Homo sapiens: one gene and its partners. The protein of the gene in region 1 interacts with the protein of each later gene in a pairwise test. Each region holds a gene or a part of one and is shown in the gene's direction. Other genes may lie near its edges. The genes, in order: FOSL2, LHX8 and ATF7.

The links.
Region 2: the proteins of FOSL2 (region 1) and LHX8 interact in binary tests that used the Homo sapiens proteins (3 or more experiments, as listed by UniProt).
Region 3: the proteins of FOSL2 (region 1) and ATF7 interact in binary tests that used the Homo sapiens proteins (3 or more experiments, as listed by UniProt).

Annotation. Positions count from the first base shown.
Region 1 is NC_000002.12:28,395,812-28,399,564, forward strand, and holds part of FOSL2 (fos-related antigen 2), read left to right. Parts: intron 1-3,753.
Region 2 is NC_000001.11:75,137,386-75,141,138, forward strand, and holds part of LHX8 (LIM/homeobox protein Lhx8), read left to right. Parts: intron 1-3,599; coding exon 3,600-3,721; intron 3,722-3,753. UniProt on the Homo sapiens protein: Transcription factor involved in differentiation of certain neurons and mesenchymal cells.
Region 3 is NC_000012.12:53,619,747-53,623,499, reverse strand, and holds part of ATF7 (cyclic AMP-dependent transcription factor ATF-7), read left to right. Parts: intron 1-3,753. UniProt on the Homo sapiens protein: Stress-responsive chromatin regulator that plays a role in various biological processes including innate immunological memory, adipocyte differentiation or telomerase regulation.

The DNA of each region.
Region 1 (3,753 bases):
GCTCCTTGGTGTGGTGGTGGTTGGGTGGGGGACGAGGAGGAACTGGTGGATTTTTCTGTCATTGCTCCAAGTGTGAACAAAATTGTTCTGTGGTCCTAAGGACTGACCTCAGAGGCTTTTGTTCCTTCACAAGTCTATGCTATGACCTTGCCCGATCTTGGGCTCAAGGTAACTTTACTACATACCAGATAAAACCTGTAATCACTTTATTTCTCTCCGCTTCCTGTACTGGAAGACTTTCCTGGCAATTAGTGGATGGGCCTTTCTCTTTTATGGCATCTCAGTGGACCGATCCATATGAGACAGTTCTCTGGTTTTTCTCTGGGGAAGTGAATTTTATTTTTTTCAGCTCTCTCTTTTGGGGGTCCAATATTCCTGATTAGTTTGTTGCCAGTTCTTCAACCCAGAGCTTTCCCGTCCTCTCTAGCTTCATGAAGCTGGATCTTAATACATGGCCATGAGCTCCAGTGACTTTGGGGGTGGGGGGAGCAGACTAGTCTTTGTTACAGCCTCTGTTCTTATATATGGCAGGAACTTGAGGCATGAAAAATATTTCCTGTTCCAGTTATAGTTTTAATCTCAAAGGTTGGTCATTGGTGATTTTGTTTTGTCAGTAACCGTTGCACACACCTCCCCTTCTTGGATTTTTCTTTTTGCTGTTGTTTTTTCTCTCCTAACTTTCCTAGGAAAACATCTCCCAGATATATGCCCTGCCTGGCTGCTTGACTATTACGGTTTCAGGGCCTGAGCATTACGCAATCCAGCCAGTTACACAAACATAGGTCATTTCATAACTTGTTTTCATCAGCTGGGCCCCCTTTTAATGAAAAAACAAAACAAAAACAAGACCTAGAACTTTTCCAAGGCTGCTATTTGTTTCTCAGATAACTTGTGAAAATAAATCAAGGGCAGTATTTCCTTTTTGGAGTTAAGGAATACCAGACTAGCACTCTTCTTCCTCAACCACCCCTTCCCAAGACACACACACACACACACACACACACACACACACACACACACACACACAAAATTCCCCAGAGTGAACTTTTGCCAACTGTACCAGACTGGGACATTCCTCACATCAAAGAACTTTTACCAGAAATGACTGTGATTCCCAAGCTAGCCTCAATCATACCTCTCTAGTGCCCTCTACGGGAAATTTTTAGGAAAACTATCTTGGGAATGTATTTTTCCAGTCCCAGAGAGTGTTAAATTGGTGAGTTTGGAATTCTTAGGATGCTTTTTCTTTTTAATGAGGGACAAATAAATGCCACATATTTAACCGTGGTTAACTAGGAACTGCTTGACTTTGAGTTTCTTTTTTGTTTTCTTCTAAATAAAACCTGGTTAAAAAAGGAGTGCTTTTTCGTTGTGCACAAGTACCCTAGAACTTAAAGTATAATAAAAAATAAAAATAAAAAAAGGAGTGCTTTTTTCTTTTCCTATTTTGATGTCTGTCTATTCATTAGGTTGCCTTCACAGTTTGTTCAAATTCCCAAGGCATGTTTTCCTATGTGCTTATATTAGGAGGGGGCTTGTTCAGTTGGTGGGAATGTGGGAGGCATAGATTAAGGGTCTGGGTGCTTTTTTTTTTCCCCTTGATGTTACAGATGTTGTAGATTAGGATCAAACAAAATGTTATCCCAAGAATTTGTCTGTTCCGCTGATTCTTGATGGTGGAAGTCAGCTTCACTTTTTCATCAAAGGGAATGGGGTGAAATAGCAGTCATGTATTGTCTGAAAGGCATTTGAATTTTCCTATCCAAAACGCTGAGTGCATTTCCACTACCCATTTCTGCTTCTGCCTGTCTTATTATTCAAGGTGAGGGTAAAATTGGGAGACTTGTTTTTTCTTCTCTATCTTAATACAAACACAGCAGAACTTATTCATCCTTGTCACTGTCATCCCCTTCCTTGTTTTTTCCTTGGGGAGACTAAATGCTTATCTGAATGCTGCGGCTATGCTTAGACTCAGAAAGGTTTTGCAGTACCCCCTCTTTTGCAGTTGCTTTCAGCGTATTCTTTTGAAAATCCTCCCTACTAACAAATCTTTGTCCTTTGAAGGGTGAATTTGATATTTGGAAATTACCAAAAGCCTCTTTGGAGCCGAGTCTGACATACAAGTCTGGATGATCAGGCTGAGGCCAAAGTAGGGTGTGACCCTGTGTCCTGCAGGCCTCTAGAGTCTACCTGGGAGAGCATGCCCACGACAAAGGACACCAAAGCAGGCACCTTTGCCGTCAATAACTTGGATTTTTTTTCTCATTTGTTAGATAGGAATAAAGATACTGGTTGTGAGAATTAAGGAGACGAACGTTCCGGTCTATTTGTTGAAACAAAGAAAAAAATAGCATCATTACTTTGTGGATATGTCTCATCTATGTTGTATGTGGTGTCTTTTGGTGGCCACAGTATTTCAAAATGACAGCAGCTGCCCTGATTGAGGCAAATATATCTGTTCCAAACCCCATCTGGTAATTCTATCCCTTCTCCACTCCCTGGGCCAGAGAGGGAAGGTATAAGATTTCTCCTGGCCCACCTGGTCTCTCGGCCCTGTCCCGTGGCAGTGAGACTTTCCTAGGCTCACCTTCCGGTGGCTTTAATGGAGGATGAGAGGACGTGTCATTCCCATGGAGTACAGAGCCGCCAGGGAGCTGTGGGGGCTCCAAAGGGGCCCACACACTAGTGGAGTGAATTCCCCAGTGCTTTGGAGTGGCGCTTCTGGCCAAAAGGGCCCTGGCAGGGAAGCAGCTGGGGAGCCTGGACGAGGGCTAAGGCCTTCTCTTTCTGTTTCTTTCCTTCCCTGCTTCTCTTCCCCCTGGCAGGCAGCCAGGTGGAGGAGGATAGAGTAAGTCTTTCAAGGGAACCCAGGAAAGCGTGGAGGCTGAAGGGAGGCGAGTCACCTAAGACAGCATTTATAAACTGTAACGCTTTGGGAAATCACAACTTATTAGCAACAGTTTCCATTGTGACATAGTGGTATTTCTTCAGAGAGGAATGAAATGTCAGAGGTCAAAGTGATGTTCAACGCAGAACCTGTGAAGAATGGTTAAATTCCTTATGGAAGGCTTTGGGGAACATCCCAGGTTCAGTAAAAATACAGAGTATTTGCGTTAAACTGGACCTCAGTGGGGATGTGATGGGAGGTATGAGACAGATTGTGCCCTTATCCTTTTCTCTTCTTGGGAGCCAATCTTCTAGGATGTTGGAATTGTCCCTTTTCCATCCTGGGAATCTAAAGAAAGGGTTCTTAAAGGGAAAGAACCCAGTCCCTTCCTAGATACACTCAATCATACCTGCTTGCCTGGCAAGGCAGTTTACAGAGTCCACAGGGCTTCATGGCTTGAATGCTTGATAACCCAGACAAAAATCTATCTGATGGAGAATCGCCTGGCCAAGGGGCTGGGCCAAGAACCCCAACCCTGACTTCCATCTCACATACCAGTTCTGCCCACTCACGAGTCTCTGGGATAAGCCCTCGGCCCCATCCGGTCCTGTAGGGGCCCAAACCCTAGTTCCAATACCTGTCAGCAAAAAGCCATGGGTTCATAGCTGAAGCCAAGGCTCCAGTATAGAGTCTCAGGAGGCAGTTTTCCCAAATCAGCAACTGTTGTGGGGGGAACTTCTCTGACCTGCTGAGGTTTGGTGGCCCTAGAGGGTCCGTGTTTTCGGCCGTCTTTCTCATTGGCAGTGGAAGGAGCACACGCATCCTTCCCAAGCAGCCCGGTGGCACCCTAGCAACAGGGTACAGCA
Region 2 (3,753 bases), on another chromosome or scaffold:
GCAGAAAATCAGCCCAGTTTAGGGCAACTCATGCGGTGGGATAAAGTGAGAAGAAATCCCAGACTCTTCTATGTCGTTGCAAAACAGCTAATGTGTGACACATCCTGGTCTGGACGCGCCGGATGTGTGTGGATGCGCTGGAGTCAGCCACTGGCTTGTAGTGGAAGGGAAGTGGAAAAACCCTTATCCATTCTGAGACAGAAACCTGCTTAGTTATTTTTCACCCAGCCCCGAATTATTCCTTTCTTAAACATCTTTGTTCCCTCTAAACGGACTGTGGTCTCTCCACCCCAGTGACGCCCACGCCCATGACTGCTTAGAAGAATTTTAAGTTGGTATGTATTAACTGATTCCCTTTTGCAGTGTCTCTTTTGGTGAAAGCCACTGTAAAGTAGCTTAAAGGATCTTTTCTGGACAAATTTTAAAAATACAGTCCTATGTTTTTTTACAGTTACCTGAGGCTTTTCCAAAGTTAAAGTTTATAGGTCCATTTAAATAAAAACCATTTCAATATATTCCTGCTCTTATTAAGGTTTAATACTTCTAGGCCACTCAATGCTGTTGTTACATCATCTTGAGTGCTTGGGGAGAAAATGGAAATTGATATAAAGTTAGACACACACAGCCTGGGAAGAAGTGTTTCAAGTGTGGTTTGAGAGTTGATTGTCTTAATTTGTTTTACTTTTCTCTTAAAATATTGTGGGGGAATTTTGGAGTAGAAATTTTGGCAGGCCACAGTTATCCACCTCAGTGCAGATCATGGTCCCATGTGTCTTAATCAGAATATCATGGGGTTTCAACTTAAATAGCTTTTTAAAACCACTATTTAAAATAATGGTCTCTCCTACACTGAATTAGTAGCAAACCAGTTCACTTTCTATTCTCTCCCCACCCTGCTTAGGTTTTCAAAAGGATTAATTATGGAGAGTATGTGTTCAAAATTCGTGTTAGTGGGTTTCTTTAAGTTTCTACCTCAACATACAAAGCTTCTTCATCTGTAAAATGGGAATGCTACCCTATAGATAAAACCTAGAGAAAATGCCAGAAGAAGTTTTGGTAAAAAGATTTAAAAATGACTAAATTAATCTTACTTGGTGGTTGATTCTTAAAGCTGGCAAATTAACATTGGCTTTCTCTTTAAATCTGCATTCTTAAGATTCCACTTTCAATGTTTCTAAAACTGAGCATTTTGGATATTGCAAAATCATCTTTTGGGTTAAAACTAGCATCCTATTTTTAATGAGCCCTCTCAATAATTACCGTAATCTTTAAGAATGTTTCTGAGTAGACCTATGAAGGCTCTAACACTTCACAGCAGAGAAGATATAGAAGGGTTATGATGAAGTGACATTTAACACAACCTCTGAAATAGATAATAGTTTCTAGTGTTAATCTTGTATACATTTATATATTATATATCTTTGTATTGCATAAAAATCTAAGTTAAGTGAGTTACATAAAGCTTTCCTTTGTAATAGGGCAGGAGTCCTCCCAATGAAGCCTTCCATGTACAGTATTATTGTACCACTTCTTGTATTCTTTAGTGTGTAATTTCTAACTAAAGTTTGATACTATATGATTGACAAAAACTGAATTATTAACCTTTATTTTCCGTTTTGAGTACTTCCTGCAGAAAAGTTTGAGTTTAACTTGAGTCACTGATTTAAAAAAAAAAGTTAGACCTAGTATAGAAATATTATTTTAGGGTGTAACTAATATAGAAAAACACTATCTTGTGAGGCAAATAAAATGGAGTTAGAAAAGTATGACAGGAGTTAGATGCATTGATTACCTTGTCCAATAACTTCAGTGCTCTGTCCTTCGGGTAGTTTTTCTGGCTTGGTCCAAGTTGTATGTTTAGACATACACAGATTAGATTAATAGTAGGTTTATAGTCTCCAGAATCTCCTCTCTTCACCTTACTTTACTCCCTGGCAAAGAAATGGAAGATAAACAGACATTTTAGGAGGGAAGTGAACTTTGAAAAAACGTGACAACCAGGTCTGGCTTTAGGAGGGAGTAAGAGAGAGGCCATGGCTCTTCCCCTAAAGCCTAGCTTTAAAAACAAAACAAAACAAAATCCTGGGTAAGATTGAAATACAGAAGGCCCTAAACAGTGGAATTTTAAAGGAAGCCTGTTCATCTAAACTTTATACTGGTTGGTCCCATTTTAGGAAAAAAATATAAGGAAAATGCTTTTTTTATTTCCAAGGCAGTATTTAACATTGTTAATATTATTTATTCAGATTTCCTCAGATTTCTTTCTGTTTTCATTATTTTAAATATTGTCTATAGTGAGCATGTAAGTTCTAAGTTCTTGTAAAGACCAAAACTTTTTGAATGTCATCAAAATGAGACTCTCATTAATGCTTTGGAAAGAGACACATAACTGTAATTAGAAGTCAGTAAAACTTTCAGCTTCGAAGTACCTTTTATATATTGCAGAAAAACATGTTGGACCGTAGTTCTAATTCGATAGACACATAGTCTTTATTATGGAATAGTTGAGCAAAAGCCATATCTCACAGTCATTTACTTTCCTATTTTAGTCATTGGATCCATTTTTAGGGTGTAATTGGTGTTTTTGTATGTTACTGTTCTTTTACATGAAATTCAATTAAGCATAAATCAGGTTCTTGTGTCCACTTAACAAGAGCAAACTTTGGGAGCCTGCATTGCATGCAAGCCAGTTCTATCTAATACACATCTTCATACTCCAGGGCTAAAGTTGTAGCGCTTGTAATATAATGGCAACAGTTTAAAGTAAGAGTAATTATGACTTGTTCCCTGGATTGACAATATTTCATGTTCCTATTTAGAAAGTATAAAATACTGGCCTTATTAAACACCATCTTATGTTTTACTACTTGAAGTGTAAGTGGAAAACAGTGCTTGAGTGCTTTTTTAGAACCACTTATGATTAGATTTATTTTTTTCTCCTGTAGCCAAATCAGTAAGCAGTTTTACCAATATACTTTTCTACTTATTTCTATTGTTTCTGTTCAGCTGTTTAATATTAGAAGAGAACCCGGGCTTCTGCTACATCAACATTTAAATTTATCTGAGCAATTTCTGTCCTGTATAGGTAACTATCTTATAAACCTGCATTTTCACTTTCTTTATTGCTCTGTTTAGGAGGTATACAGTTTATAATTGTTTAGCCAAAAAATAGGTTGAGAGAGTATGTGTTTTGTCTTCTTTAACCACAAGGTTTCATGCTGGGAAGAACTTGGTAAAATATAACAAAAAAAACCTGTATGTAGGACTTTAAAGTAACCAAACTATTCCCTGTGTTCATAAAGATTCCATTTAAGAAAGAAAGAAAAAGCAACCTGAATTCTTCAAAGGAATAGAAAATATTATAAACACAAAATGTGGCATATATTAGTATAAATTTTTGGTTGAGGTCTAAAAGATAATATATCCAGATACATGTTTACAAAAATGACATCTTAAAAAAAAATGACATCTTTTGGATGAAAACATTCAGAGCATGTGTTAATATATTAAGGGGCCAGTTTTTTAAATTGCCCAATACACAAAACCAATGAATACTTTTCTTAAATATGATATTACAATGGCTTCTCTTCCCTTCACAGGTGAATGACCTATGCTGGCATGTCCGGTGTCTCTCCTGCAGTGTTTGCAGAACCTCCCTAGGAAGGCACACCAGCTGTTATATTAAAGACAAAGACATTTTCTGCAAACTTGATTATTTCAGGTATGCTGTGAAGCTTTTTCTTAGTAGATACT
Region 3 (3,753 bases), on another chromosome or scaffold:
TTCTTTGAGAAAAACAAATGCAGCATTCATTTAAAAGGAAAAAGCATTCATTTCTTTTGTTGTTGGTTTCTCAGAAAATGGTCCTACGATTTTGGAGTTCATGAAAAAGTCTTCTGTCTCTTTAAAAATATGTCAAAGAAAATAATTTTTAAGCTTCTCTGACATTTACTCATTTTGACATGTTGCCTTCCCCTAAGGTTTTTTTAGGAGGGATCAAATAAATTTATGATATGTGAAAACACATCAGAGTTGGTATGATGTGTTAAAAGACGGTTGGTCTTTTGACTTTTGAATACTCTAAGGAGAAAGTCTCCACTTCACAGATACCCTGTTCCATTATTGGAGCTTTACTTTTAGAACATTTTTTACATTGTGCTGAAGCTCTTTAGCTCTGTTATCTGAAGCCACAATAAATAAATCTAGTTCCTTGTTAACATGGTAGTCTTCAAGTATTTCATGACACTTATCGCTTTCATTCTTTTAGAGACAGGGTCTCGCTATGTTGCCCAGGCTAGAGTGCAAGTGACGTGATCACAGATCATTGTAACCTCGAACTCCTAGGCTAAAGTTATCTTCTAGTCCTAGCTTCCTGAGTAACTAGGACTCTTGGCCTCAAGCAGTCCTCCCAGCCTCCAAGTAGCTGGGACCACAGGCGCATGCCAACATGCCTGGCTAATTTTTAAATTTTTTGTAGAGATTGGGTCTCCCTGCATTGCCCAGGCTCTTCTGGAATTCCTAGGCTCAAGCCATCTCCCCACCTTGGTCTCTCAAAGTGCTGGGATTACAGGAGGCATCTCTTCTGGGGTAAATACCCCAAGTTCTTTAAGCTATTTTTTTTTTTTTTTTTGAGACGCAATTTCGCACTTTTGCCCTGGCTGGAGTGCAGAGTCTCGCGCTTTTGCCCTGGCTGGAGTGCAGTGGCACAATCTCAGCTCACTGCAAGCCCCGCCTCCCAGGTTCACGCCATTCTCCTGCCTCAACCTCCCGAGTAGCTGGGACTAGCAGGCGCCCGCCACCATGCCTGACTAATTTTTTGTATTTTTAGTAGAGACGGAGTTTCACCGTGTTAGCCAGGATGGTCTCAATATCCTGACCACGTGATCTGCCCTCCTCGGCCTCTCAAAGTGCTGGGATTACAGGTGTGAGCCACCACGCCCGGCCAGCTATTTCTATTATTATTATTATTATTATTATTTTTGAGATGGAGTCTTGCTGTGTTTCCCAGACTGGAGTGCAGTGGTGCGATCTCAGCTCACTACAACCTCCAACTTCCGGTTTCAAGCGATTCTTGTCCCTTAGCCTCCTGAGTAGCTGGGAGTACAGGTGCCCGCCATCCATGCCTAGCTAATTTTTGTATTTTTAGTAGAGACGGGGTTTCACCATTTTGGCCAGGCTGGTCTTGAACTCTTGACCTCAAGTGATCCGCCTACCTCGGCCTCCCAAAGTGCTGGAATTACAGGCATGAGCCACTGAGCCCAGCCCGTACGATTTCTTAAGTGACATTTTAAATAAAAGATCAGGCTCTTCATCAAGTTAGTTACCTGAGTGGTTTATGGTTCCTCATCTAGGTCTGAACATCTCAGATATAATCTAATAAATACAAACTACGGGGGGAATCACAACTTCTATTTTATTGCACTCTATGCCTCTGTTTTTAAAGCCTAAGATCACATTAGTTTGTGTAGTTGATTTTTTTTTTTTTTTTTTTTTTGAGACAGAGTCTTGCTCTGTCACCCAGGCTGGAATACAGTGGCTCGATCTTGTTTCACTGCAACCTCCGCCTCCCGGGTTCAAGCGATTCTCCTGCCTCAGCCACCAGAGTAGTTGGGATTACAGGCCTGCACCACCACACCCAACTAATTTTTTTTTTTTGTATTTTTAGAAGAGACGGGGTTTCACCATGTTGGCTAGGCTGGTCCCGAACTCCTGACTTTAAGTGATCCACCCACCTTGAACTCCCAAAGTGCTAGGATTACAGGCGTGAGCCACCGCGCCGGCCATGTAGTTGATTTTTTGACAACTTTACATTTATCCCTGTAATTATCATTTTGTTAATTTGGTTTGTTGTTTTAGCTTGATAATGTCATTTCACCTCTTGACCATTTCTCATATGTTTGTATTATTGATAAATTTGATAAACATGATACCTGTGTTTTTGTTTTAGGTCACTGGTAAACATGTATAAGGGTAGAACAATGCTATACAACATGAGTAGACTATCATTATGTTAACATTAACCTGTTAGTCAACTTTTGGATAAAATTCAGTTGTGAATCCCACCTGCCATTTTATATAATCTAACCTTTATTTTCTATGAAATAGCAAGAGGTATCTTGTTGAAATCCAAATGCAGTATATTCTGCCTCTGACATCTCTGAACTCCTAGGCTAGTGACCCTGTCAAAAAAGAAAATGAAGTTGCATATTAGTTGCTGTTTGGGTATCTTATGCTACTGTTTATAGATCACTGCATAACTTGCCAGTGGTTCATAAGTGATCTGTTTAATAATTCATTTAGAATCTTTCTGAGAAATAATATTTCACTAGTCTACGATTTCTGTACTCGACCTCCCTTGCCCCACATTTTAAAAAATTATAATTTTCCCATTTCCAAGACTTCTAGTCCTGTTTTTTTTTCATTTTCAAATAATTATAGAAAATTAACCATATTTCTTCATAGTTGCAGGGATTTTTTGTTGTTATTTTGTTACTGTCTTTTGGTTGTGGTTTTTTTCTTTTTCTTTTTTTTTTTGAGACGAAGTCTCGCTGTGTTCCCCAGGCTAGAGTGCAGTGGCAGGCTTACTGCAACCTCTGCCGCCCAGGTTCAAGCAATTCTCAGGCCTTAGCTTCCCAAGTAGCTGGGATTACAGGCATGTGCCACCACACCTGGCTAATTTTTGTATTTTTTTTTTTTTTTTTTTTTTTGAGACGGAGTCTCGCTCTGTCGCCCAGGCTGGAGTGCAGTGGCGGGATCTCGGCTCACTGCAAGCTCCGCCTCCCGGGTTCACGCCATTCTCCTGCCTCAGCCTCCCAAGTAGCTGGGACTACAGGCGCCCGCCACTACGCCCGGCTAATTTTTTGTATTTTTAGTAGAGACGGGGTTTCACCGTTTTAGCCAGGATGGTCTCGATCTCCTGACCTCGTGATCCGCCCGCCTCGGCCTCCCAAAGTGCTGGGATTACAGGCGTGAGCCACCGCGCCCGGCCTAATTTTTGTATTTTTTTAGTAGATATGGGTTTTCATCATGTTGGCCAGGCTGGTCTTGAACTCCTGACCTCAAGTGATCCACCTACCTCGGCCTCCCAAAGTGCTAGGATTACAGGCGTGAGCCACCGTGCTCGGCCATGGTTTTTTTTTGAGACAGGGTCTTACTCTGTTGCCCAGACTGGAGTACAGTGGCACAATCATGGCTCATACTGCAGCTTCAGTCTCCCAGGCTCAAGCCATCCTCCTACCTCAGCCTCCTGAGTAGCTGAGACTAAAGGCTCATGCCACCATGCCTGGCTAATTTTGTTTATTTTTTGTAGAGGTCTCATCATGTTTCCCAGGCTGGTCTCGAACTGCTGGGCTCAAACAGTCCTCCTGCCTTAGCCTCCCAAAGTGCTGAGATTACACGCATGAGCTACTGTGCCTGGCCAGATTTTTTGACATTAGATGAAATTCTGTTTCGGAAACTTTTTTTTTTTTCTGAGGCAGGGTCTCCCTCTGTCTCCCAGGCTGGAGTGCAATGGCGCCATCTTGGCTCACTGCAGTC